Homo sapiens: one gene and its partners. The protein of the gene in region 2 interacts with the protein of the main gene of each other region in a pairwise test. Each region holds a gene or a part of one and is shown on either strand. Other genes may lie near its edges.

Region 1 (7,538 bases), on a different chromosome or scaffold from region 2:
GGGAGGCCGGGACAGAGTGGCGAGGAAGAGGCCAAGTCTGGAGCAAGACCAGAGATGAGAGAGAAATTATTACATCATTTGGAAACGTTTTCCTAAAGGGTATGCCCCTCACCCATCCCCAAATAAGCAAAGGAATAGTCCAGCTGCCGCCGAAATAAGCTGGATTTAAATCACTTCTTCTAAAATGCCCCTAGAGGGGAGGGCACTAGAGGCACCGAGCTTGGGGACACCTAGACCTGCGTCCCCAAGTGCTCCATTCGTGGTGACTCCATGTGATGAAGAGGCAAACATGTCTGTGTTGAGAGGGAAACCCTTCTAGTTGGCGACTGGAGGGACCCCTGTGGGAGAGCGTTTCTTTTGTCTCCCCTCCTCTAGGGTTTAAGAGCCTACTGTCCCGGAAGGCCCAAGGGTGTGCCCCACAACCCCTCGAGCTTCCCCCCTTCTTAGGCCACTGGGCCCAGTCCCAAGAAAACTAATAGTTGTGTATATGTGGGTGATGGGGACCTATCCCGCGGTCCCAGCACCAACAGCCTAACAGCCAGAGGCCAGATGTGCTGCAAGGGAGGCTACAATCCATTCACATTCCAAGAGGAAATAAAAGCTGGATCCAGAAGTCTTCAGGGAGTGGGCCCCTCAATTTTGGCCGATGCCTCCTCCAACCAAGGTCACGAAACTCGGACAAAGGGAGGACTGACCACCCCCTCTAGATTAGACATTGCCTCCCTGGGCCACCCTGGGGGGGTGGGTGTGGAAGTTCCTTTGTACACCTCAAGTTTTCCACAGTGTGAACCTAGACTCAGCCTTGGCAAACTGTAGCTCTGAAGGTGAGTTCTGGGCATTTTAGCAAAGCGACTCCCTGACGTCGAACATCAAAGTTGTCTCTGAACAGGGAAGGCAAAAAGTGAGACAATCAGAGTGTCACTCATCACAAGAAAGGCCGTCAGAGCAGAGACCATCGTCCTTCATTGGGGTCCCAACAGACAGGTCACCTACGGACCACAGCCATGAAAGCACAGACGTACTGGGTACCAAGGACACTAGTAACACACACACACCCTTCCCCCACTCATGCAGTCTCCTCACTCGCGCAGAGCTACAAGCAGCTTAAGGACTCGGTGCACCTTTGCAGGGTTTCTGTTTCCGTCTTTGCAGGGGCTGAGAACCCACTCTGTCCCTGCCTGTGTGCGGGGTGTGGGGCGTAGTGAATCTCCAATGCCTTCTATGAAAACATCTTAGCGGTAAACTCCCCAAGGCTCAACACAGACGTGGAACTGATTGCCGGCAGTTGACACGAAAACACTCAAAGAATAACTGTAGAATACAGCCAAGAAACAATCTAAATAGGCTTGGATGAAGCTATTCTTTTCTAGTCCCTTCTCAAAAACTTCCCAGGGAAGCCTACGGTACGCCTGCCCTCCGAAGGATCGCCGGACAGAAACCCTGCCATGGAAACCCGAGGCGCAGGAGGGCGCGCTCGTGCGCCCTAGTTTGTAGGTAGTCACCATCCCTGGATGAGCCGGCCCTTACTTAAAGTAAACCCCGAAGATGTAGCTACCGCACCACTAAAGAAGTCGCAGGCGGAAGTACAACCCCTTGGCAAGCGGAGCGAGGAACTCCTTGGTCTCTCCAGGGTGCCCGGGGCGCCCTGCTGAGCGTGCAAGCCACAGGGGCAGGACTCTCCCGGCGCTTGTCGCGCGCGCGCGCGCGCGCGCGCGACGACTGGGCACCTGTTCTGGCCTCTGCACAGATTCCCTCTCGGGGACTCTCGCTCAGGAGTGAAGCACAGAGACGGATTCCCTTCGGGAAAATCTCTGCGCGCGCACACCCATACACACAGAGAGAGACTTGGGGATAAACACGCCGCGAGCTCCGGCTGTCTCGCTAATTTCGGGCGCGGGAAGAAAGCGGGCGGGCAGGCTAGCAAAGCTCCCACACACCCCCGTCTCTACCCCTCCAAACCCGAGCCACCCTGAGCACCTGCCCTCGCGTGCGCAAAGGCTGAACCCGGAATTCACAACTTGCGGTCGCTTCTCCCTCCCCTGCATTCCTAGGCTAGCTGGAATGCGCGAGCAGATTCCCTCACAAGGAGCAGTCAGTTTCCCGCGGCGCACGCGGCGGGCGCCGCGGGCAGTAGCGGCTGGGGACTCACCCGGCACGCACGCCCGGGGCGCGGGCCGCAGGGACTAAGAGTGTGGCCGGGGCTTCTCCGCCGCCAGCCCCAGGGGCGAGAGACGCGCTCTCCAACTTCCCGCCAGCTGGGGTGAAGTTGCACTAGCGGTCCTGCAAGCGCTGACCGTCACGCCGGCGAAAGAAGATTTGTGGGGACCACCCTCGCCCTCAGGCCTGGCCTACAGCTCGTACCCCTGGGTGTCCCCAAACAGCACTCTCCCCAGCGTTCCAAGAAAAGCCTTGGGCTGGAGATGCGGGGTTCGGTACTCGGCTCGCCTCAAGCATGATCCAGGAGGCGTTCACATTCGGCCCCAAACAGCCAAGAGCCTGGCCCCCTCAAACGCACTCTGGCTGGTGCCCCTGCCCTGTGACCGCCTCTGCGCCCCGGCCGCCAGCCCCTCCCGGCCCCTGAGCGGCGTCCGGCCCGCCCCGCAGCGGCTGAGGCTGCTAGCTGTCTTGTTAGAATTAAATCAGCGAGAAAGGGGGGTGTCTTACGTTGCATCGGCACACCTAGCATCTCCGGGAGCCCCTTGACAGCCCCTTCCGCGGGGACAGTCGCACTCTGCATCATCTCGGAGCGAAAGCCAGCGAGTCGCAGTCTACGGAGATCTCTCGCTCTCTCGCTCTAGCTCGATTCAGAAATTTCAAAATAATAATTAAAACCCCAAGCAGGCCGCTGGAGTCACGGTGGAAGCCGGGCCCTCCGCTTCTCAGGGAGGACTCCACAGGCTGGCCGGCCCCCTCCCCCCGCCAGTCCCCAGTCTGTTTCCAGTCCCTTTGATCTCGCTCTCCGGGGTTGGTGCACATCCCAGGTTGAGACGCTGTTGCTGCAGCTCTGGCTTTTTTCCTCTTCCCTCCCCCGCCCGCTCCTTCCCCCTCCCCCTCCACCCTTCGCGTGCCGGCCGCCCGGGAGGCCGCGGTCACCCGGGCGTTTTGATTCATTCACACTGCAGGAGCGGCCGTGACGTCGCTTTCCGCAGGGAGGCCCGCCCTTCGGCACATCCCCCAACCCGGCGGCGGGCAGCCGACCCCGGAGGGAGTGGGGGTCCCGGCGCCCCGAGTGAGGCCGGCGGGGCGGAGGGGGGCGGGGCGGCAGGGAGCGGGGCGGGGCCTCGCAAGCCGGCACCCCCCCCCCCTCCCCGCCTCCGCCTCCGCCTCCGCCCAGCCGTGGCGGGCTCGCGCCCTGGGTATAAATTCTGCTGATGGCCTGCCGCGGCAGCAGGTGGTCGGAGACGGCGGCGCCCTGGGTTTGCGGGTCTTCGTGGGTTCCAAGCCCGCGCGGCTCGTGTCCTCCTCACTCCTCCGTTCGGACCCAGGGGCGGGGCGGAGCCGAGCCGGGGCCGAGCGGGGCAGGCGGTCCGGAGGCCGGGGACGGGGCTGCGTCGCTGTGTCTTCGCCTTGCGCGCTCTCGGTCCCCGGCTTCGCTCCGCCGGACGGAGCGCGCTCCGTAACCGATGACTCCATCTATCTTCCTCCTCCTCTTTCCCCTGGCCAATTCCTTTCCTGCCGGCACTTCCCAGCCCCTGCTCTCTCTCCCCCGCGTCTGGCTGAGGCTGGGCCAAGGGACAGCCCGTACTCGGCCCGGAACGCGCGAGTCACGCGGCGGGCGGCGCCGGCCCGGGCTGGGGAAGGGGACCAGGGGCTGTGCGCGGAGGTGGCGGGACGCAGGCCCCCCGCGCGCGTCCCCGCAGACCGCGGCCTGCAGCCGGAGTCCGCACTTGCCTCCAGTTCCGCAGGGTAGGGGGCCCAAACCTCCCCGCGGCGGGGCCTCCCCGGCCGCCCTGCCACCAGTCGTCCAGCTCGGCCCTGTCTTAGGTCCCTAGAGCCCGCTCTGCCTCTCCGGCTGCCACCGCGGGTGCTTTGAACCATCCGCGACCTCGTGCGTGCAGGGCGGCAGTGAGCACACGGACGCCGGGGTTAACCAGCGAAAGGGCTTGCCATGCTTACTGTATTTACGAGATGCATGGACAGGTAGAGAAACGCTTAAAACAAATTCTCCTCAACGCGAGTTTCTGGCAGAAATACAACAGAAGGCCCAACGCTGGGACGAGGTCTCCTCTGACGCTCCATCAGGCGCTCGACGCCTCCGGGCTGCAGGCGCGGGAAGCCCACCCCGTCTGCCCCAAGACCCAGCCGCTCTCCTGCCCCCAGCCCCCACGGCATTTCCTTCCAGAAATGCAGACATACGTGTCCTTCCAGCCTAGTGGGGTTCAGCTTAGGCGGGAAGGGGGACTGTGTGCCCTCCCCAGCCTTCCAGAACCTTCCCTGCTGTTTCCCCTGGTGTCATCTCCAAACAAGGGACACCTGCTCACCTTTAAGGGAGGAGCATGGGGCGGGGGAGAATGGCCTGGTCGTCTGCGCTGCTTAGAATTTGTCTCCAATGAGGTCACAGTGACTTTTGTGTGTCCTGGTACTGGGTTGGCATCATCTCTTCCCTTGTTTACCTGCGAGGTGACTCCGCGCGCGAGACAATATACACAAGAAGAAAAAAGCAAAAGAACCCAGTGACATTTTTAGTGTTTACCAAAATGTGTTCTATAGAAATATAACTAGTAAGCAAACACGGGGAAACGCCAGCCTCATTTGCAGTGAAAAACACGCAAGACAAAACAACACGTGCACAGCTTTTTCTGTTTGTGAGATGCCCGACGCGCGGGAGGGGCATCCTAGAGTTCAGGACTGGCGAAAGGGGCTTGGACACTCACCAATACTGCTGGGTGCTTATAAACTCTTAACATCCGTTTGGAAAGAAATTTGGCAATATGTATCAAACTCATAAATTTTTCATACCCTTTAGTTTATGTAGTACTTTTGAATGTCTGTTCCACGGAAATAATCTAGAATTTTTTATAAAAGTTTCATGCGTGAAAATGTTTATTACAGTATTATGTTTTGGAGAAAAATAACCTAAATAGCCAACAAAAGAAAAGTGGCTTAGGGAAGTAGATTAAATTGTTTGGTAGTATGTTATGGAATCATGGAAACCAATTATGAAACCCAATAACATGGGGATGCTTGTGAAATACTATTTTTTTTAAAAGCACAATGCAATAGCATAGGATTATAAATATGTAAAAATCTTAGTCAAATGTAAGGGCAATGATAATACCCATTGTTGGTTAGGCTGTGGGGAAATTAGAAAACAATTTCCTAGTGGGGATTGCAAAGAGGGGAAATGTCTTCTCAGGACGTTTTGGCTACAAATGTGATGCATTTGACCCAATCTCTATAGAAATTTATCCAAAGAAAATAATCAAGAATGTTTGTGAAGATGTAGTTACAAGGATGTTTATAAGGTTTTTAAAAGGGAAAACCTAAATATCCAACAATAGGGGATAGTAAATAAGTTACAGTAAATTATTAAGTAAAATGGAATGTTATGAAGTCTTAGAAATAATACAACAGAAGAATATTTAATGTAGAAAAGGGTTTGAGATTTATTAGGAAATGTGAAAAAAGAATATGAAGCGGTATGAACTTCAGGAACTTTTCTTAAAAAAAGCATAAACACTGTACACTTAAAAATGGTAAAGATGGTAAATTATATGTATATTTTACCTCAATAAAAAATTGTTTAGGAGGAGTAAAAAAAATGCCAAAGTGTAAAAGTGGTTATCTGTGCAGTGGATATTTTATTTTATTCTCTTCGCTTTTTTCAGTTTTCTCAATGAGCACATTATTTTATAAAGCAGAAAAAAACTAATAAAATGCTTTTTAAAATATTAGGGAAAAGGTAAGGAAAGATACCAAAATACTATTCAAAAGAATATTTGGAAAAAGGTATATTAGGGAGATGTATTATGGAATTTTTTCCTTTTTCTCTTTTCCAGATTTTCTGTAAAGTGATTATTTTTCAGTAACATTAGTAAAAGATAACATTCAAATGCAGTGAATGTAAAGCATATATAGTAATTACTTTTATAATTTAAAATTATATTTTAAAAATGCTCTCTGCAGCTCCTGCTTCTCTGATTTGAACCTGCTGGGGTCCTGCCCTTTTCCCATTGCATGTCACTAGCCTGTCAGTAGGTGAGGAACAGCCTTACTGTGGTGGGGACTTATCTCTGCCCAAGACTGATTCAGGGGATACCACTTTCACCTGTGTCGTTTGGCAGACAAGCCCAGGAAAGTCAGCTTAGCTCTCAGTTCTTGCACCTGTAAGCAGCAGCTCCAACATACCTTGCACCCCCATGCCCACACACACAGTGCAGCTCAGCCAATAAATGCCCTTTCCACATTCTGAGGCTTTTTTTTCTTTCTTTCTTTTTTTTTTTTTTTGAGACGGAGTCTCGCTCTGTCGCCCAAGCTGGAGTGCAGTGGCGTGATCTCAGCCCACTGCAAGCTCCACCTCCTCCCGGGTTCACGCTATTCTGCCTCAGCCTCCCGAGCAGCTGGGATTACAGGTGCGCACCACCACGCCCAGCTAATTACTGTATTTTTAGTGGAGACGGGGGTCTCAGCATGTTGGCCAGGTTGGTCCCAATCTCTTGACCTCGTGATCCACCCGCCTCAGCCTCCCAAAGTGCTGGTATTATAGGCGTGAGCCACCACGCCCGGCCATTCTGAGGCTTTTCTAAAAGCATTCGCCTCTTGTATGAGCTGGGTCCCATTCCCAAGGTCCTCCAATAGCATCTATACCAGCCAAGACGCTTCACTTCCCCTGGGACCTCAGCTTTCCCATCTGCAAATGAGGAACCCCTAGCAAAAAGCTTTCCTTAAACAGATTTTAGTGCCTACTGCTGTTGATGGTAATAATAATAATAATAACAACATAGTAGCATATGGTAGTAATAATAACTAATATTTATTGAAAGTTTGCAACTGTACTAGGCACCAAGGCAAGTGCTTCTACCTGCATAATTCTACCTATTCTTCATGAGGAACTGATGCATGGTTTCATCATACCTACTTGGTGGATGAAAAAACCGAGGCTAGCAGGGGCTAAGCTGTTTTCTACCCCCAGAGAATGGGAGAATGGCTGAATCCCACAGAAGTCCATTAATCTCTACTATGGAATGGCCCAGAAAGACCCTTGGGGTGGGACTCAGTTTGGATTAAAATCCCTGAGCTGACTCAGCAGGGCTTTTCTCACTACAATGCACCCAGGGCTGGCAGGTGACCTCCCAGGAATGTTCCTCAGAGCCAGCCATGTCCCTTTGGGCCAGGACCTGGTTGGAGGTTGAGCACTAGAGGATGGGCCTGTGGTGGGGTGATGTGGCTTTCTTCAGGTCTAAGTTCTGTCAGAGAACTTGAACAATAGCCAGTACAAAGTATCCAGTACTTGCTAGACATTTATACATTCCATTTCTGGAAACCAAACCCAACATGTCAGGGGATCCAATTCAGAGGCAAGACACTCAATTTAGGAA
Region 2 (7,000 bases):
AAAGCATCAGCAAGCTACGGCCAGCAGAGTGGGTACTGCTTCAAGGTAGAAAACAAAATGTTGAGAAGAGTTGTCTGAAGAAAAAACTTAGCCTACTATTTCCTCAAACAACCAGAGACTACAATGGAGAGAGGCAGTGGGGAGAACAGCTGACTGACAAGGGCCTCATATCCCATTACAGAGAGGTGACCATACGCCCCAGTTTGCCTGGAACAGTCCTAGTGCATTTATTAATAGCACATTCTTCCACTTTTAAAATGCTGGGTTTGAATAATACATTTTATACTCATCCTAATTAAAGATAAGTCTCTTACAATTTTAGGGCTTCCAGCAGACAGAGACAAAAATGCCTCAGTCAAAAGCTTCAGAGGAGAAGTCAGAGAAGCCTTTCAGGAAAGTGTGGTTCTGGTCTCTGAAGGAGAGCTCTACCCTGAGCAGAGGGAAAATCTGTTGTGAGTGAGTGTGTGTTTGCATATGTGTGTGTGTAAGTGCACACTGCAACACTACAGAGTGGGCAAAGAACAGCCAGGAAGACTGACAGAATAAAGAAATACGTAAGAAGGATAGATATAAGGAAAGAGTGGCTCTCTCAGGTCAGGTGTGGTCACTTGCTTTTTATTCATTTGTTTGACCATTAATTCTCAGTGGAAGACTGAGGCACGGGAACTAACTGGGTCCAAGGAGTAAACACAACCCTAGCTAGAGTTCTAAGTTCTTCCATCCCATGGAGACTGCACTGGAGGGGCAAGACCTGGAGTGGGAAGTCTGCAAACAGAGAGTTTCAGGCTTCAAAAGCATTCTAGAGAAGTTGCGTTCTCAAGAAGATGAAGCCAACAAGAACCCACATGTCACAGACAGCTCTTGACAAGAAACCTTTCCAGAAGGGACCCCCACACACTGTCATATGGAAAGTGCTTACTGATGAGATTAAGGGGACTCCTTAGTCATCATCAGGAAACAGACAACTTAAAATGAAATCAATAAACAACTTATCTGTAAACTTAGGAGCAGAAATATATTCTGAGAGTGTGTTGAAATAAAGGAGGGCAATGTTGCAATGACAGTGCTTCAGGAGGACAGTGACAATCATGGAGTCCAGAAAACGCCAAATGAACAGTAGGAACAAGGCAGTATTTGCCTTGTTCAAGGTGCTGTCCAAGGAAGACACGAATGCTATCTGGCTGCCTGAGAACACTGGCAAGAAAGGAAAAGTGTCCCTGGCCTGCAGGCCTTGCCCTAAACACTTTATTCTGACTCCACACCTACCTTGATTTTAAGTACCTTCAGTGTAAGGATAGAATTGCCAGATAAAATACAGGATGCCCAGGTAAATCTGAATTTCAGATAAACAATACTTTTTTTTTTTTTTTTAGAACTTGGTATTATTATTTTAGTATTTTATAGTATTTAACACCCCCTACTTTTTTTTTAGATGGGGTCTTGCTGTTGTCTAGGCTGACCTCAAACTTATGGCCTCAAGAGATCCTCCCATCTGAACCTCCCAAGTAGCTGAGACTACAGGTGCATGCCACCAAGCCCAGCTTAATCCCACATTTATATATGTCTATCCCTTATAAGGGGTATATGTATGTCCCTAGTATGTGGTATACATACGTCCCTACAACATTTGGGATGTATGTATCCTACAAGAGTATTCATTGTTACGTCCAATTCAAATTTAACTACATGTCCTATATTTTCAATTCTGGCATCCCCTAGTGGGGATTAGGGCATGAGATCTCTGCTTGGGTGTTCCTCTCTGAATCAGGAAGAGTATCTTTTTTTTTTTTTTTTTTTAAGAGATGGGATCTTGCTCTGTCACCCAGGCTGGTGTGCAGTGGTGCAGTGATAGTTCACTGAACCCTCAAACTCCTGGGTTTCAGTGATCCTTCTGCCTCAGCCTCCTGAATAGCTGGGACTAAAGGTGCATGCTGCTGCACCCAGATTATTATTTTTATTATTTTTTTTAGAGACAAGAGTCTTGCTATGTTGCCCAGGCTGGTCTCCAACTCCCGGCCTCAAGTGATCTTTCCATCTCAGCCTTCTGAGTGCTGGGATTATAGACATGAGCCACTATGCCTGGCTTAAAAGAGCATCTTGTACATGGCAGATGCTTAGTAGTTTGAATGTTTGAATATACTTGAATTAAGATGATAAACTGCTTCTAGAAAGCACTAAAAAACTGTGACAGGGGATATCTGAAAAGCAGGGAGTCATAACTAACACTGTGTTCATTCCAGAAATATTTATCAACTGCTTATTACATATTAGGAATTCTGTCTTTGAGAGGTATTGGTTCCTATGACTGGGATTGTCTGACTTGTAGCATTTTATTTTAGAGTTCCCTTTTCATCAAGCACCACAGGAGATTCTAATGCAGAGCAAATTGTGGTGGTGGGCAAGGGTAAGCAGGCGGGAGGGCAAGGTGATGGTGGGACTCTTAGAAATGGACACTCCTTTCCAGAGGCTGAGGGACAGGGCAGGATCCTGAGGTCCCCAGAAATACTTACCTTTGACAGCTTGCTGGACGTAGGCTGTTGTCCCATCACTAAGGGTCACCGTGTGCAGCCCCAAGCTCTCCATGGCAAACTGCTGCTCGTGCACTCAGACATGAAGTTGGCTTCTGGCCAGCACCAAGAGCCACAGCTGAGGTCAGAGATTTCCTTCTGGGTCACAAATCTAAGAAAATAAACAGTATCACATTATGAGTTAACCAGCTTTCTCCTATCGCAAAGACACTCAGGGAAGGAGTTAATGAGGCCAGCCAGCCAAGAAGAAAAAAGATGAATTCTTCAAAGTAGTGAACTATATTGGTTTTTATGAAAAGGGCTCAAAATACACATTATCTAAGAATTCTAAAAGTTAAGCATAGAAGAGAAGCATGCCAATCAAACTGGTCATAAAGTAAGAAATCACTGATCAAAACCCATTTCTAAACTTTCTCCCCTTAGGAAGGAGCCCTGCTGAAGGCAGGCAGTTAACCCCACTGCTGATGGTTCTCTCTGCCTACTCCAACATCTCTCCTGTGCTCGGACCCATTTATCTACTGAGCTTGTTAACCATCCTCAGGGAACATCCCACATGTACCACACGTGGAATAAGTCCTCAACAGAACTCACAATGTGTCCCAACCTTCCAGAACTATTGTACTTCCAGTATCCCCTATCCCAGGGGTGGTATCGCCTTCCACCCAGAACTTCAGGGCGGGGGGGGGGGGGATCATGCTTGAGTCCTCCTTTTCCCTTAAAAGTCCAGGTACTTATTTCAGGCATGTCTCACCTTTCACCTCTGGACAACTATAAGGAGCCTTATAACTTATGTCCTCAGATAAACTTTTGTCTGTTTCCAATTCATTTTCTTTTCTTTCCTTTTTTAGAGACAAAGTATCACTCTGTCGCCCAGCTGGAGTGCAGTGGCTCCATCACAGTTCACTGTAACCTCGAACTCCTGGGCTCAAGTGATCTTCCTGCCTCAGCCTCTTCCAACTCATGTTCTAACATTCATGTTTATGCTGTCAGGGTGAATTTAAAAAAAAAGCTCTCTTCCCACTATCTTGGAGCCTGTAGAGGCCTGCTGAGAACAGGACTTCCAAAAGGCAAATATGGGCGGGGTGTAGTGGCTCATGCCTGTAATCCCAGTGCTTTGGGAGGCTGAGGCAGGAGGATTATTTGAGGCTAGGAGTTCAAGACCAATGTGGGCAACACAGCAAGACATTGTCTCTACAAAAAAAAAAAAATTAGCCAGGTGTAGTGGCACATGCCTGCAATCCTAGCTACACAAGAGGCTGAGGTGGGAGCACTGCCTGACCCCAGGAATTTGAAACTGCAGTAAGCTTTGATCATACCACTGAATTCCAGCCTGGGTGATAAAGAGACTCTGTCTCAAAAATAATAATAAGATAAATACAATACATTTGGAAGGCTGTAGTCCAAGGCCATTTTTTGCTAGCTGTAAGTGGGGCCTCCAGAACCAAAGCGAGGACACAGCTCTTATTAAAATTGAGGTATTGGCCAAGTGCGGTGGCTCACGACTGTAATCCCAGCACTTTGGGAGGCCGAGGACAGTGGATCACGAGGTCAGGAGATTGAGACCATCCTGGCTAACATGGTGAAAACCCATCTCTACTAAAAATACAAAAAATTAGCCGGGCGTGGTGGTGGGCACCTGTAGTCCCAGCTACTTGGGAGGCTGAGGCAGGAGAATGGCATGAACCTGGGAGGTGGAGCTTGCAATGAGCCAAGATCGCGCCACTGCACTCCAGCCTGGGCGACAGAGCGAGACTCCGTCCCAAAAAAAAAAAAAAAAAAAAAAAAAAATTGAAGGTATTTATGCTCGAAATGAAACTAATTCTATTTAGGCAAGAGATGTACTTACATGTATAAAGCAAAGAACAACACACTGACTGCTGGCAGCAAACTGAAGAAAACCAGCATAATCTGGGGAAAGGTAAACTCAGGCCCATGGAAACAGTGGCATGGTTTGTGCTAAATTCCCAAGCAATCTTGCTAAAGCTATTGAACACAGAATCTGTGTGACGCTGTGCCCCTCAAGGACTTAAGCTAATGAAAAGTAAATAAATAAAAGTAGATTTATAAGAAAAAAAGAGTACAAATCTAAACATACCACTTCCTTGACTAAAACCCTTCCATAGTTTCCTACAGCTCTTAGAGTCCACCTTGCATACAAGGCTGGGTTGTTATAAACTCCCACAGCCTAGGTACCACCTTTTCCTAGCACTCACACCTCTGGGCTCAACCTACTTCAGTACTCATCACTATCTGTTTAATGTCCGTTGCCTACACAAGGCTTTGGGCTCTAGCCTGGTTTCTGCGTCACAGTGGTTTCTCCAGCAACTCACACTGTGGGCTCTCCACACATCCTGTGAGTGACTCCCTGGGTCCCTCATGTGCAAGGTGGGAAGCACTGAAGCTTCCTGCTGGCAGGATATCTTCTGTACCCACTGTGGTGTGCAGCCTGCTCTAGCAGTGGACCCCAACACTTGTGAAGCCTGCAGGAAGCCCACGGCCTCTAAACTCAGTGCAGTCGTGAAGACTCTCTTTGACATCCATTCTCAAAATTCTCCTGGACTTGGAATCTGGACTGCCTACTGGATTCTCACGACTTACCAACCGATATCTTTGACTGGTGCTACCCAAACTGTTTTCATGTCAGGGGACCTAGAGAGACAGATATTTGTACATTGCATTGCAGATGCTGCTGCTTAAAGTCAGAAGTTCACATTGCAGATGTCACTGCTTCAAGCCAGAAGCGACCAACTGGGGCTTTGACAGCCCTGAGGGGCGAGCGGATCAATATCTTGGCAAAATTATAGACCATCCAGGAGTTCGAGACCAGCCTGACTAACATGGAGAAGCCCCGTCTCTACTAAAAATACAAAATTAGCTGGGCATGGTGGCACATGCCTGTAATCCCAGCTACTTGGGAGGCTGAGGCAGGAGAATTGCTTGAACCTGGGAGGCAGAGGTTGCGGTGAGCCGAGATCGTGTCATTGCACTCCAGCCTGGGCAACAACAGCGAAACTCCGTCTCAAAAAAAAAGAAAAAAACAAAACAAAAACTGGCTGGGCGTGGTGGCTCACACCTGTAATCCCAGCACTTTGAGAAGTTGAGGCGGGCAGATCACAAGGTCAGGAGATCCAGACCATCCTGACTAACAGGGTGAAACCCTGTCTCTACTAAAAATACAAAAAATTAGCCGGGCGTGGAGGGCGCCTGTAGTTCCAGCTACTCGGGAGGCTAAGGCAGAAGAATGGCATAAACCTGGGAGGCGGAGCTTGCAGTGAGCCAAGACTGCACCACTGCACTCCAGCCTGGGCGACAGAGTGAGACTCCGTCTCAAAAACAAACAAACGAAAAACCCAAAAAAACCTATAGACCAACTGCGACACGCTGATTGGAATGCTCTACCCCAGGCATGGCATCTCAACTAGAATTATTCATTCATTCTGTCCATAAACATTTACTAAATGGGCTAAGGTGCAAGGGCAGCAATACTATTATATAGTGAACACTACTATAGAGTTAACCACGTGCTAGGAATGTCACATACATTAACTCATTTAGTTCTAACAATCCTACAATCAAATGCTATGATTATCCTCATTTAAAAGTGAGGGAACTGGAGGCCCAAGACCAAGTTAAGTAACTTGCTCAAGGTTACACAGCTAACTAGTAAAGGAGGATTTCACCCTAGGCCATTTAATCCAGAGTGTGACCTTAATTACTATGCTGCGAAGCACAGAGGTGAAGCTGGGGGTTTATGAAACTTGAAGCTACTCCAAAATACTTTTTTGGTGTGTGAGCCTTTGCATTTTCCAGGAGAGAGGGAAATCCAAGGCTGTCATCAGGGTCTGATAGGGATTAATGGTGAAGAACCACTGGTCAAGGTGGGGATTCTGACATCTGACATCTCTGGTCTATTAGCATCCTTGCCCAGAGCCCTGATAACCTCCACGTGGTCCCTGTCTCACAAGAGCTCTGCTCCTGGCCTCTCTTGGTCTGCTCTGACCTTCAAGCTTCACTCTCTTCATCAGGTAGATTCTTTGGGTAACCCGCTTTAGTGTAACTGCACTGTGTCAGAAGACACATAAGAGAAACCAGGTCTAAAAACAAAGCAGGCTGGGCACGGTGGCTCATGCCTGTAATCCCAGCACTTTGGGAGGCCGAAGTGGGCGGATCACTTGAGATCAGGAGTTCGAGACCAGCCTGACCAACATGGTGAAACCCCGCCTCTGCTAAAAAAAAAAAAAAATACAAAAATTAGCCAGGTGTGGTAGCACATGCCTAGCTACTTGGGAGGCTGAGGCAGGAGAATTGCTTGGACCCAGGAGGCGGAGGTTGCAGTGAGCCAAAATTGCATCACTGCACTCTAGCCTGGGCAACAACAGCAAAACTCTTGTCTCAAAAAAAAAAAAAAAAAAAAACCCATAAATAAATAAATAAAAATAAAAACAAAGCAGACATAGGTTGAAAAGGGATTG
Region 3 (7,000 bases), on a different chromosome or scaffold from region 2:
TTGCATTGCTGAGAGAGACTTAACTTTTTTTAGATTTAACATTCCTAACCACGGTATTCAATAAATAAATGTTAAGTGCCTAAAATGTACACGTGTTGTTCTAGGAGCTGGGTGTACAGTAGTGAACCAAAAGACAAAGTCCACGCCCTGCACAAAATAGGAATTACCTCCATGTAGAGGCGAGCCTTCAAGAGCTGAAGTGGCTTGCTCTGGTCATAAAACTAGAGGGCAGCAAGCTCTGAAGGCAGATTGCTGGGACTCCACACCCCTCTAACCATAACTCTGCTGTGTTCCTCTTGACCCTGATGACAGGTACCCGCAAGATGGAGTACAAGGGCAGCAGCTGGCATGAGACCTGCTTCATCTGCCACCGCTGCCAGCAGCCAATTGGAACCAAGAGTTTCATCCCCAAAGACAATCAGAATTTCTGTGTGCCCTGCTATGAGAAACAACATGCCATGCAGTGCGTTCAGTGCAAAAAGGTATCTCAGATGCCCCCTTGGCCCTTGCACGTTCTGGCTGGTTTGCCTCCATGGTCCATGTCTGTCAGTTCTCTTTCCAAAACCAAGGATACCTGTGATACTTAAGTGGCGTGGGAGCTGTGCCTGTCCTGCCTTACATTCTGAGCATTTATCCATCGGGTCTGGGTGTCCATCCTTCTTTCAAAGACATCAACATTGTTGAGCTCTGTGATCAAATCGTTTAACCCTGCCTTCTTCTAGACCATTTCTAAATATGTTCTTATGTTGATAACCTGAGGTTAGAGGGAAGGGGAGCCACCATCCCAAAGCTGTCTTGTTCAGCTTCTCTCCATGAATAAAACAAGAAAACAACTGCAAACTTGAGAGGGAGAGAAAGATGGAAGGAAGAGGGAGGAGAGGAAGGGAGGAGAGAGAGACGGATGTGAGAAGAAAAGTAAAGGAGAAAAGTCTGCCTCCATGGATATGGGACAGATCATTTATTAAATGTATCTACTCTGGCCGGGCATGGAGGCTCATGCCTGTAATCCCAGCACTGTGGGAGGCCAAGGCTGGTGGATCACCTGTGGGAGGCCAAGGCTGGTGGATTACCTTAGGTCAGGAGTTCAAGACCAGCCTGGGCAACATGATGAAACTCCATCTCTACTAAAAATACACAACTTAGCTGGGTGTGGTGGCACACGCCTGTAGTCCCAGCTACTCAGGAGACTGAGGCAGGAGAATCACTTGAACCCGGGAGGTGGAGGTTGCAGTGAGCCAAGATCCCACCACTGCACTCCAGCCTGGGCGACTGAGCGAGACTCCATCTCAAAAAATTAAAAAAATAAATAAATAAACTTATCTACTCGATAATGTGCTATTCCAGTCATGGCTCTGTTAGGGTTAAAGAAAGAAAGGGAACTGCATATCTGTAGGAAGCCATCTCTCTGCCCAGTTGCCCCCCGACCTGCACCCTTCAGGGTGTAGCTTAGTTTTCTGCTGTGCCCTCTGACTCTTAGACACACGCAATTCTTATTATGCTATAGCTTCCAGCGTCTCTGTCCTGTTAGGATTTGCATCAGCCTGTTGAGTGGCACCCTCCCACTGCTCACTCGCCCTGGGCAGCGCCAGCTGTGGAACTCATCACAGGTTCTGTTCGCTCTCCTCCTGTTATTGACTCTGCTCACCCAGCTTCTGCTGTTTTGCCCTTGGGGCCTCTACCCTTGCGTCTGGGCCATGGAGAAACATCCCCAATGCTGCTACCTGTACCTGGCTGGCCTGGGCAAGAATATCCCCACCTTGCCCACACCTTTTCTAAGTGCTGAGTATTCTTACCAATTTCCATTCAGTCTTTCTCTCATTTCCTTTTTTTTTTTCTTTTTTTGAGACAGAATCTCACACTGTCGCCCAGGCTGGAGTGCAGTGGCTCGATCTTGGCTCACTGCAACCTCCGCCTCTTGGGTTCGAGCAATTTCTCCTGCCTCAGCCTCCCAAGTAGCTGAGATTACAGGCGTGCGTCACCATGCCCAGCCGGTTTTTTTTGTATTTTTAGTACAGACGGGGTTTCAACATGTTGGCCAGGCTGATCTCGGAACTCCTGACCTCAGGTGATCGACCTGCCTCCACCTCCCAAAGTGCTGGGATTACAGGCGTGAGCCACCATGCCTGGCCCCATTTGTTCTTTACTGTTATTTTAAATTTTATTTCTCTTTATTTCCTCTCCTTTTATGCTTCTGTTTTTTTCTTTTTTTGAGACAGTTTCACTCTGCCACCTGGGCTGTAGTACAGTGGCATGATCTCAACTCACTGCAACCTCTGCTTTCTGGGTTCAAGTGATTCTCCTGCCTCAGCCTCCTGAGCAGCTGGGATTACAGGCAGGTGCCACCACCAAACCCACCTAATTTTTTTTTTTTTTTTTTGTAGTAGAGACGGTGTCTCACTTTGTTGGCCAGACTGGTCACAAACTCCTGTTTTTTTCTTTATTCTTAGATTGAGCTCTCATTCCTGCTTTTATTTTAGGAACCCTCTTCCCTGTTCTCTCCCCTTTTTATTTTTATTTTGGTTTGTTCTTCTCATCAAGACCTAACGGAAGTTCATCTGAGTTGCTCTTCCTCTGTCATCTTTCCAATGTGTGCTTTATTCATTTGCAGAAATGAAAGCAACACATCCTTCTGGGATGCATGCTTTTTGTGTGCATGTTCATTAAATACACAAAAACATTCATGCCAGAAGCATCCATTCCTCGACATGAACTTGGCCCTCTCAGGCACTGGGGATCTGATGCTGGACAAGATGCAGACACTTAACTGTAGTCTAGGTGGAAGTACACTCCAGTGTCAAACCCGTCAGTAGTTACTGAGCAGTGTGCTATGGAGGAGAAGAGCAGAGTGTGGAATGGAGGGACCTCAACTAATCTGAGGAGTTGGGGGCCAGGGTGGTGTTGAGGGAAGGAGTCTCTGAGAAAGTCATGCTATGCTCAGAGGCATTGAGTTAGCTGATGTGGGTGGGAAGCATGGAATCCGGAGCAAGGGAGGACTGAGGACACATGTTGCAGGCAGAGATGTCTTACACACACAGGCTACTGCATTCACATGGATACGTTGCAACCAAGCGTGTTTGGTGTTCATTCTCTTGTGCAGTGGGGTGGGTTATACTAAGATGCTTCATGATTTATGGTTTAATGAAAAGAATACAAGATAGAAGGGAGTCCAGAATTCTAGTTCCTGCTTCGTCATTAACCAGCTATGAATTCTTTGGCAAGTCACTTTTTAATTTCTCTGAGTCTCAGTTTACTCATCCATAAAATTAAGATAATATCTTTCCTACTTCACAAGCTTTATGTAAAGACCAAAGGAGTTACTGCATGATACTGAAATGTTCAAAAAATAAAAAGCAAAAAAGTGTGATTGTGAGGTGCTTGCACTCCATCTTCCACAGCCTTCGTTTGCCAAGCTGAGGCCACCTACACTCCTCTCTGATAGCTTACTCAGCTCCACCAAGCACTCATTTTTAAATAGAATGTGAGATGCAACATTTGGAGAAAAATATCAGGTAAAATTGAGGTACTGATGGCCAGTTCCACCTCATGTGGCTTTGCAGCTTCACCTCACAGATGTTCTAAGACCACAAGACAGGTGAGAATGAAGGCATCCAGCTTATTTTTCCCAAAACTTCCAAGATGCCCATCTCTTCTTGTGGCATCAGCAGGTGCTAGTCCCGGCTGTCCTTTAAGCCTCTTCCTTCTTTCACCGTAAGTGGCTGGAGAGACAGGCTCGTGAGTGGCATTGGAGAGGTTACCACTTGCCAGGGTTTTTGTTTTGTTTTGTTTTGTTTTGTTTTTGAGACAGTCTCACTCTGTTGTCCAGGCTGGTGTGCAGTGGCATGATCTTGGCTCACTGCAACCTCTGTTTCCAGGGTTCAAGCGATTCTCCTGCCTTAGCCTCCTGAGTAGCTGGGAATACAGGTGCACCACCACACTCAGCTAATTTTTTGTATTTTTAGTAGAGATGGGGTTTCGCCATGTTGGCCAGGCTGGTCTCGAACTCCTGACCTCAAGTGATCCACCTGCCTCGGCCTCCCAAAGTCCTGAGATTACAGGTGTGAGCCACCAGCCCTGCCAGGCTTCTAAGTAAGGACTCCTCATCAACTTGCCCAATTAACCTCATCACCCTCACTTCCTGGATGAGAAAACTGAAGTGCAGAGATCTTTATCATGACCTGCTCCCAGCCACAGGGCTGGTAAGGAGTAGGGTTAGGATTCAAACCCAGGTCTCCTTGATGCTGTATTGAATCCCGACCCCTCCACTGTGCTGCTTCCCTGCTCAGAAAGGTGGCAACACCACTGAGGCACCCTATGCCTTAGATCCCCAGCATCCCTGGGAAGGGCTGAGGGCAACCCCAAGCTCCAGTTTCACTAACGGGAAAGCCAGGGCCTATGACACTGGAATGAAAGCGTGTGGTGAGGGTGACGAGTGACTGTGAAGTTTGTAAAGCAGCTTCTTGGTGACTTAACAAACTGGACGTTTCTGGATGAGGATCTTGCATCGTCCAGTGGCAGTAGCTGAGACTGAAGATGTCTGCCAAGCACAGAGGCCACACTAACTCTCCCCCTCGTCCCTGCAGCCCATCACCACGGGAGGGGTCACTTACCGGGAGCAGCCCTGGCACAAGGAGTGCTTCGTGTGCACCGCCTGCAGGAAGCAGCTGTCTGGGCAGCGCTTCACAGCTCGCGATGACTTTGCCTACTGCCTGAACTGCTTCTGTGACTTGTATGCCAAGAAGTGTGCTGGGTGCACCAACCCCATCAGCGGTGAGTGTCCCGGGGTTCCCATTTCCAGGGGCGATTGGAAGCTTGAACAAGGCCTAGCATTTTAGCCTGTGACCCTGTCTATATCCCTCAACTCCCCAGACCTCCCTAAGGCTCTGAACACAGCAGACTTTTCTGCCTATCTGCTTTCCTCTCCTTGGTGCACTGGCTATGCTTCAGCAAGTAATGATTCCTTCCTCTGCAGCCCACCTGATCACAACCATATGGCCAGTGCTCCAGTTTAGTTTCTGCTTTGGGTTGGATTATCGCTAAAACTGCAGTCTGTGAGCCTGTGACATCACAAAAGCACAATAAAAACTGGCCTTTTCAGGCTTAGCAGCTGTGCTGTGTTCTTAGAAGTGTCCCCTAGCATCTTAGTGGGACGGTTGTACTCCAAAACATCTTAATGGGAAACTTCTACCACAAGGCCATAGCTATATGAGGGCAGAGGGTACATTCTAAGGAGTTTTTCATATTGTATTCCCCCAAAGAATTCAGCTAAGTGAGAGCCCAAAATCTGGCTGGCTGGCAGACCAGGCTTCTGGACTAGACTATTAAGCAGGCTGGAGAAATTCAGTGTGGAGAACAGAGGAGTTCACACTAAAGTCCTTTAAATGGTCACCACATATCGCTACACAAATGAGTGACTGGGTGGGGAGAGAAAAGTGTGTGTTCTGTAATAACACAGGAGAAGTTTTATGATGTGGGATTTGCAATCCCGTTGCATTCAGTTGACTGGTTCGTTCCTATCAGAGGAAGGTGGCAGACACTTGGAGTACCCGGTGGCCTGGCTTTCCTGTGTGGCTTTTCAGTGTAACTACAGAAACACATCTATACACCCCCTGTGTACTTGTCCTTGACTTTCCTTTCCCTTAGGCCTAGAACCAAGTTCACCTAACTCAGCTAACTCACCTTCCCAGGTCGCTAAAACAGTACTCTCATGTGTAATGCAGAGCTCATTACATTTCCATGTGAAATTAAAATATGAAGAAAAGCACAGTATTTACACTTTACCTATGTTAAAATATCTGTTTCTGGTCATTTATATACCAGATTTCCCTTGGAATCTTTTAGGGGGAAAATGTAATCTTTTGCCAGAACATATTCATCTTTAATGCTGTTTTCAGCAGTAACTTCTGTTGAGGTAAATGTTTATAACATTAAGCTTTATAAAGTGATACAATCTATATAAAAGCACTTTTAAATGTAAAACATTAGATATGAATGTGAATTGTGGTTATTGTGGCACTGAGAAAAAACACTAGGTAAAAACCAACTGTATTATAATCACGGACCAATGTACCTTAAATATTTGATTCCATTCTATCTGTCTGCAGCTTTCTCAGGATCTTCCCACTGCGACAATATCCCTCTCCCCTCATTCCCACCCACATCGCACTTTATCTGTGAGGCCTTTCCTGGCCATCCCAGGGAGGATTAACCTTTTCCTCTTCTACACTCCCTTCACTGCTTCAATCATTAAGTCATAAAAATTTGAGCACCAGGCAACGTGAGGCACCTAGTGAAGACATAAGAGAAATCTGCTCCCTCTTCTCATGGAGTTTCATTTTGTGGGAAAACACATAACAAATACACAGTCAGCATTCTTTGATCGCACTTATCCCATCGTTTTGGAACCAGTTTATATATCTCTTCTGATATTCACGAGATCCTCCAGGCTGTGCATAGAATCTGATTTACATATGGATTCCCAACACCCAGTCACTAGAAATTCACATTATCCATATTACACAATCCAAACTTTGAAATGGATCAAACCAGAATTCCTTCTTCAGTCCCAGTTGCCTGATTCTAACTTTCTTCATCCGGTATTATTTTCTCTCTGTTAACAGGACTTGGTGGCACAAAATACATCTCCTTTGAGGAACGGCAGTGGCATAACGACTGCTTTAACTGTAAGAAGTGCTCCCTCTCACTGGTGGGGCGTGGCTTCCTCACAGAGAGGGACGACATCCTGTGCCCCGACTGTGGGAAAGACATCTGAATTCAACACAGAGAAGTTGCTGCTTGTGATCTCACACACAGATTTTTATGTTTTCTTTCTCACCCAGGCAATCTTGCCTTCTGGTTTCTTCCAGCCACATTGAGACTTTCTTCTAGTGCTTTTCAGTGATACTCACGTTTGCTTAAACCCTTTAGTGCTTTGTGATAGTTCAGTCCCAGGGAAAGAGAAAACTCGCCCTAGGCCCTAGGTGGGAAGATGGTTTGAAATTTT
Region 4 (7,541 bases), on a different chromosome or scaffold from region 2:
TATCTACTCTTAGATATGCCTAAATCCCCAATAAAGGCCCTTCATCAGATTTGACCCCAGTTTACCCTTTAGTCTCTCTCTCTCCTACATTTCTCTCAGGACTCTTCAATTACTGCTCCCTCTAGTCTGGAATGCCCCTTTCTTCCACCAGCCTTCTCCCGCCCTTTGCCTGGCCACCTTTCTTTCATCCTTCACAATCAGCTCACTCCCATTCATCCATTAGAAATCAACCAGAGTATCTTCCCTTTCTGCTCACCTCCAAGTAGTTTTTTTGGCATGCATTTTCGGAATACTATACTGTAACAATTGTTGTTCTGCATTGTAATTATCACCCCCACTGGACTGTAAACTCCCTGAAGTACAGACTGCATCTTATTCCTTATCCCCAAGACCTAACATTGATAGATACCCAATAGACAATTAGTGAATAAATAATACCCATATCCACTGAGTGACATGCACAGGCTACATAAGCACACTGAGGTTTTTTATCTAAAGTTCCAGCTGGGTGTGACGACTAGCATCTGTAGTTCGAACACTTTGGAAGGCCGAGGCGGGAGAATCACTGGAGCCCAGGAGTTCAAGACAAGCTTGGGCAACAAAGCGAGACCCCGTCTCTAAAAAAGATTAAAAAATTAGCCAGGTGTGGTGGTGTCCGCCTGTAGTCCCAGCTACTTGGGAGGCCATGGTGGGAAGATTCCTTGAACCTAGAAGTTTGAGCTTGCAGCTGAGCTATGAGTGCCTGAGCACTCCAACTTGGGTAAAGGAGCAAGACTCCGTCTCAAAAAATACTTTACTCATGTAAAGTGGGGATAATGCCACACTTCATATACTTGTTACACAGATTAAATAAGGTATCATGAAGCTCGTAACAGTGTCTGCCACATTAGAACTACCATTTGAATGTCTATTTCATGTTTTAGTTACACTATAGAATCCCGAGAAATGTAATGTTGTGACCAATACCAGGCTGAATGGCTTAGCAACCATGCTCTTTTTCATGCATCTAAAAGTCACGGGTTACATTCTTATCAGCAAATATTTGTTGTGTACCTATTATGTGCAGGAGTCCTTACTAAGTATCACTGAGCTACCAGAACACAATAGAGGTAAACAATGAAACAAAAACCTGTACCAATATCCGAGAGAAGAATGTTACTGGTTTTTCTGTACAAACAATGAGTATTTTTCAATAAATTTTTATTTGGAACAGGATAGGCTTCAAGAAAAATTCCTAATGGGAAAAGTTCAAAATTAACACTTGTCATCAAGTGGACCAATAACAGGAGGCAGTTCCAAAATTTCTTGTTCCTATTCCCAAGTTTTACTTTCGCTTAGATGTATTTCTTACAAAGGGTATTTAACCATGACCAGGAAAGAATATATGATCTTTATTTGACTCATTTAAATGGGAATTCCACGGATATCTCCCTAGGTTCTTTCCTACTAGTATTTAATTTTGTAGCTCTGAAAAACGGCCTGAGTTTGTCTGTTTCTCTACAAAATAGAACACTGAATGGTATATTTACCCCACAACCTTCCTTAAGACAGGATAAAACACACCTCTTAATCACACTAGCTTATCAAAAATTACAAAACTGCAAATCATGTCGCCTAGTATTAGCAAAGAAGGCTGCGGCCTTAAAACCATTTTCCCCCTAACAAATCCAAAGGTCACGGTCCCAGTGAAGTTTGTGCATTATACTTACTGTTTTCAGTAGCTGCAGAGAGACCTCTAGCGCTGCCTCAATAAGCCGAGTTTGCAAATAGTACCTGCTAATGTCACCTTAATGAGACAATGGCAACATGCTGAGTAGCAACTAACTGAGTGACCGCGATGAATGTTTAGTTTTGCAACCACTTGGAAATTCTACTAGCTTGGAGCAAGAGGTATGTAAGAGAATTATGAACCTGTGTATCCAATTTATTTTAGTAAAACGTGTCAAAGAAATTATCACCCTATGCACACCCCACTCCAAGAAAGGCTAAGAAAACAAGTCCTATGAGCGGAGGTCGGAGCAACCTCTTTTCCGAAGCCTGAACACAATAGATGGCAAACTATTGTCCACCTTCAGCTCGCTCCAAATGCCAGCAGTTGCAGGAGTATGAGCTGCAACAGCTCGGCACGACTAGTCCAAAGACGAGCACTGGAATATAAGAAAATGGTCCTGGCGCATCCTACCCTCCCCCATCGATCACCCTCAAACAAGTCAGTTACCCGGCTGGTCCCCACCCCCCTCTGCGGGCCGCCACCGCCCGCCTGGGCCCGGCTCGCAGAAGGTAGGAGCCCGGACCGGCAGAGCCGAGGCTCCATGTGAGCCGCGCGGGAGGCGCAGAGGGGGCTGCACCGGACGGAAGGTTGCACCGGTGGCGGGCGCAAGCAGCGGCCGCCCCCTCGGCTGTGCGGTCGGAGGGCCCGGGCGGCAGCATCCCCGTTCATCCGGGCGGCCCTGGCCCGCGGACCCCGCCTCAGCTCCACATCCCCTCCTCGCCGACACCAGGCCGCGCCCGCGTGACGGGGCCGAAAACGCCGGCATTTCCCGGTCGCCGCGCCGGCAGCTCCGGGGGGTGACTGCAGCCCGGCCGGCGTCTCGCCGCCCGCTCCGCCCAGCCCGGGGCCGCGGTGACGGGAGGCGGCGGCCAACTCCGGCCGACCACAAGCCGACGAGAACCAGCCCGGCGCCGGCCCCCCGCCCCTCCCCGCGTCGCCGGGCCGGCGCGGCCAGGCGGGCCCAGACCGCGGAAGCACACTCACTTCCACATCGCGGCCCTTGTTCTTGAAGCTCTTGATGCGGTGGTTCTCCAAGCTGGGGTTCTCGGCCATGGCTGCGCGCGGCTCCGGCGGCGGCTACTCCTGCGGCTGCGGCGGCGGCGGCGGCGAATCTTGGAGCGGGAGGGGGAGGAGGGGGAGAGCGGGAGGGGGGAGGGGAGAGAAGAGCACGTTCTGTGACGCCTCCGAGCGCGAGGTGGCAGTAGCGCCGGGGGAGGCGCGGGCCGACTGCCGGGCCGGGTGGGGCGGGAACGGTGCTGAGAGCGGCGCGCGGCCGCGGAGGCTGGCGACACGTGACCGGGGGCGGTGACCGGCTTGGGCGTTCGCCGGGCTATACGTGCCCGTTGGTTCTCGGGATGACCCTGCCCTCTTCCCCTGCAAGGGCTCTCCACAACCCCTCGGTGCTGCAAGTTTTGTGCCAGAAATGGAGCCGGACCTGGCGACTTTTACTGCCCCTCAGGCGCGGGGCGGCGGTCGTCAACTACAGTTCCCATCATGCCACGATCCGCCTGGAGTAATTCTCCACGCCTAGTGAGAACGAGGAGAATGCCGGGACCCTTCCGCGCGCGGCTCTTTGCGCGCCGCGCTCATGTTGCTGGGCACAAAGCTCCGCCCCCACAAGGCCGCCTCTGGGCGGGGAAGAGCGGGGGAGCGTCCCTGGCACCTTGCGCCCTATCAGGAGGAAGAGGGCGGGCCTTCCTGGGAGCGCACCTCGCTGCCTGTAGCTAGAAGATCAGAAAAGGAACAACCGCGAGTGCTTTGCAGTCTCGCTTTTTTGGGGGTCTTCTCAAATAGCCACCTTCATTCGCTCTTCCCATGCTCTGCTTCAGTTTTATAAATAGCATTTCTACCTGACATGTACATGTGTATGTATGTGATACGAGTGTTTATATGCGTTACCTAGGTGCCCGCGCGGAAATTCAGCTCAATGAGAGCAGGTACTTTGGTTGAATTACTGCTGAATCTCTAGTGTCAAAACAATGCCTACCACGTCGTAGATACGCAATACTTGTTGAACTGGCGCTTTAGTGTCGCCCAGTTTCTTCATCATCCTTCCAAGCCCGGTTCTGCAACCTTCACTCTGGCAGTCCCTGTATTTACATGCCCCCCAACACTTCTTGTTCTACCACCACACAGAATCTTAGCCTTCAGGCAGCAGCCCAGCCCTGGTCCGCAGACTCTCCTGTGTAGCACTCCCACTCCCTCTGGGGGCATCGAAAGAATGAAAGAGGGAAATTTGGATGGATTACACTGATAAAGAGCTGCTTTCGGCCGGGTGTGGTGGCTCACGCCTGTAATCCCAGCACTTTGGGAGGCCGAGGAGGGCAGATCACAAGGTCAAGAGACCGAGACCAGTCTGGCCAACCATGGCCCGCATGGTGAAACCCCTTCTTTACTAAATATACAAAAATTAGCTGGGCGTGGTGGCGCATGCCTGGAGGCTGAGGCAGGAGAATCGCTTGAACCCGGTAGGCGGAGGTTGCAGCGAGCCGAGATGGCGCCACTGCACTCCAGCCTGGCGACAGAGGGAGACTCTGTCTCAAACAAAACAACAAAAACAACAACAACAAAAACAAAAAGCTACTTTCTGGAGCAGGTGGGCTTCATTTGCTTGTATGTTAATTTTCAGAATCTATGGTAGACATGAGCAGGTATGTAATGTTGTAGTACTTATAATTGAACTGAGGTCAAAAGTTGGTAGGACTATACCATGAAGAGATCAAAAAGGACAATCTTTAAAGCGAAAGGGCCTTGGCTGGGCGCGGTGGCTCATGCCTGTAATCCCAGCACTTTGGGAGGTCGAGGTGGGTGGATCACAAGGTCAGGAGGTCGAGACCAGCCTGGCCAACATGGTGAAACCCCACCTCTACTAAAAAAAATACAAAAATTAGACGGGCATATGGCGCATACCTGTAATCTCAGCTACTTGGGAGCCTGAGGCAGGAGAATTGCTTGAACCTGGGAGGCGGAGGTTGCAGTGAGCTGAGATCGTGTCACTGCACTCCAGCCTAGGCGACAGAGTGAGACTCCATCCCCAAAAAATAAAAATAAAAAATTCAAACAACCCAACAAAAACATGCAAAGGACACTGATCACAGAAAAAGAATAAATATATGAGGAGATACAGAAAAAAAAAAAAAAAAAAAAGCGAAAGGGCCTTAAAGAACCTGAGGCCCAGAAGTCAGGAATTCAGAAGCCTTTGGTGGCCAAGCTATGTCCAGGGGCATTCGTCTTGTGAGTGGTGGGGTGTGGCCTATTGATAAACACAGGCTTCAGATCCTCTGGTCATACTGGACTGTGGCCCAGTGTTGCCAGAAGATTCCACTTTTCAAGGAAAACCAAAAAGGTAGATTCTTTTTCTCTTTATTTTTAAATGTTAATTCACATTTTGTTAATGGACTTAAGCATTTCAGTCACTTCAGAATATCAGGTCCTCAGTTTGCAACACCTGATCTTAGTCTAACCACTCATTTGAAGGGAAACACACACACACACACCAGCTATGAATTTAGAAGGAATACATTAGGCAGGGCACAGTGGCTCATGCCTGTAATCCCAGCACTTTGGGAGGCTGAGGTGGGAGGATCACCTGAGGTCAGGAGTTTGAGACCAGTCTGGCCAACCATGGCCCACATAGTGAAACCCTTTCTCTACAAAAATACAAAAATTAGGCAGGCATGGTGGTGCATGCCTGTAGTCACAGGTGCTCAGGAAGCTGAGGCAGGAGAATCGCTTGAACCTGGGAGGCGGAGGTTGCAGTGAGTTGAGATTGCGCCACTGCACTCCAGCCTGGGTAACAGAATGAGACTCTGTCTCAAAAAAAAGAAAAAAGAAAGAATACATTAGCTCAACTCTGGGTTTTAAGGAAACAGAACTTGTGTGTTTGCCATTCTCCTTGGCTAAATGGAAGAGAAATTTTCAGACTGTTGCTCAGTCTCTATTATAATTTAGTAGGTATTCCCTTTTCAGGTTACTTTATGCCACCTTTCTTCACACCCAGTCCAAAGCAGGGCTGCCCTTTTGCCTGGATCTAGTTTACTCATTTTTATTCTTTGCCAGTACCCCTGGTAACTTCAGCATTCACAAATGTGGCACCCTGACACCACAGTCTTTCTACATCCTTAACTTCACCAAGTTTTTTACCACTCAAGTGGTAAAAAGTGCAAGCCTGCACCAGACCTTGGAGACCTTAATCTCTGGGAAATGACCACCTCCAGGGACTCAAATTTGGTGCTTCTCATTGTTAGAAACTATCTCCTTCTCTTTTGCCTCACTCTAATCATCATCCTTGGCCTGAAACTTCTCTGGACAGCTCTTCTTTTAAATGGATTTATTTTCCACACATATTGTGAGTGTCTACTGTATACCAAGCATTGTATTCATCGGGCACATGTATGAAGGACTAGGGGGTCTCGGGGGAGACAGGAAGGAAGGGCCCTCAGCCCAGGGGTCAATCAAATCCTCTGACTCACTCTCCACCTTCCCAAGGCATGGGGAGTCATGCCAGCAGTCAGTCAGGTAGCAGTATGCCGTAGGCAACACAAGCATAACAGATGGGAAAAGGACTTCATGATTTGCCTCCTAAGTCAGCTTCTTTCTGCAAACTCACCCCTCTATTACTGGCATAACCATTCTTCCAGGGACACCTCTCCAAGCTAAGAGCCGTCTTTACTTCTTGTCTCTCTCCCTCAACTCCCTCACCTAGTCACCATGTTAATTCACCACTCAGTGTTTCTGGCATCTCTCTCTTCTTCCCATGCCACCCACGAGACTACCTTAACACCTCCTAAGCAGTCCACCTGCCTCCCCAATCCCTCCACAGCAATCTGACTCACTTCTCCAGATCTTCCTGACTTCATCTCTGCTCCCAATCAGCATACCCTTCTCCTCTGCCATTGTCTGTCAAATCATTTATAAACTCAGTCTAGGGCCAGGCTCCGTGGCTCACGCCTGTAATCTCAGCACTTTAGGAGGCCGAGGCGGGTGGATCACCTGAGGTCAAGAGTTCAAGACCAGGCCAGGCGCAGTGGCTCATGCCTGTAATCCCAGCGCTTTGGGAGGCCGAGGCAGGTGGATCACGAGGTCAGGAGATCGAGACCATCCTGGCCAACATGGTGAAACCCCGTCTCTACTAAAAATACAAAAAAATTAGCCAGGCGTGGTGGCGGGTACCTGTAGTCCCAGCTACTCGGGAGGCTGAGGCAGGAGAATGGCCTGAACCCAGGAGGCGGAGCTTGCAGTGAGCCGAGATCAGGCCACTGCACTCCAGCCTGGGCAACTGAGCAAGACTCCATCAAAAAAAAAAAAAAAAAAAAGGAGTTCAAGACCAGCCTGACCAACATGGTGAAACCCCGTCTCTACTAAAAAAAATACAAAAAGTTAGCCAGGCACGGTGCCAACGCCTGTAATCCCAGCTACTTGGAACGCTGAGGCAGGAGAATCGCTTGAACCTGGAAAAGGGAGGTTACAGTGAGCCGAGATCGCACCACTGCACTCCAGCCTGGGCAACAAGAGCAAAACTCCACCTCAAAAAATATACATATTAAAATAAATAAACTTGTCTAGTGGTTAAGATCATATGTGATGCAGCCACAGTGCAAGATACTTTTTTCTTATTTTTGGTTCCCCTGCACATTGCTCATGCTTCAGCTAACATGTTCTGCTCACCTTTTTCCAAGTATATCTTAACCTTTCCAGTTTTTACATCTTTGCCATTTGACTTGCTCAGATGGCCCTGCCTCTGTCTCTGCCTGTCAACATCGCTTCCTCT

Evidence for each region.
Region 1: the proteins of ZNF76 (region 2) and LHX4 interact in binary tests that used the Homo sapiens proteins (3 or more experiments, as listed by UniProt).
Region 3: the proteins of ZNF76 (region 2) and FHL2 interact in binary tests that used the Homo sapiens proteins (3 or more experiments, as listed by UniProt).
Region 4: the proteins of ZNF76 (region 2) and KPNA3 interact in binary tests that used the Homo sapiens proteins (3 or more experiments, as listed by UniProt).

Annotation. Positions count from the first base shown.
Region 1 is NC_000001.11:180,225,732-180,233,269, reverse strand, and holds the start of LHX4 (LIM/homeobox protein Lhx4), read right to left. Parts: upstream 3,007-7,538; 5' UTR 2,741-3,006; coding exon 2,665-2,740; intron 1-2,664. UniProt on the Homo sapiens protein: May play a critical role in the development of respiratory control mechanisms and in the normal growth and maturation of the lung. Binds preferentially to methylated DNA.
Region 2 is NC_000006.12:35,276,735-35,283,734, reverse strand, and holds part of ZNF76 (zinc finger protein 76), read right to left. Parts: intron 2,680-7,000; 5' UTR 2,584-2,679; coding exon 2,511-2,583; intron 1-2,510. UniProt on the Homo sapiens protein: May be involved in transcriptional regulation.
Region 3 is NC_000002.12:105,361,052-105,368,051, reverse strand, and holds part of FHL2 (four and a half LIM domains protein 2), read left to right. Parts: intron 1-312; coding exon 313-482; intron 483-4,580; coding exon 4,581-4,767; intron 4,768-6,617; coding exon 6,618-6,769; 3' UTR 6,770-7,000. UniProt on the Homo sapiens protein: May function as a molecular transmitter linking various signaling pathways to transcriptional regulation. Negatively regulates the transcriptional repressor E4F1 and may function in cell growth.
Region 4 is NC_000013.11:49,789,683-49,797,223, forward strand, and holds the start of KPNA3 (importin subunit alpha-4), read right to left. Parts: upstream 3,001-7,541; 5' UTR 2,825-3,000; coding exon 2,756-2,824; intron 2,387-2,755; exon of another isoform or gene 1,710-2,386; intron 1-1,709. UniProt on the Homo sapiens protein: Functions in nuclear protein import as an adapter protein for nuclear receptor KPNB1. Binds specifically and directly to substrates containing either a simple or bipartite NLS motif.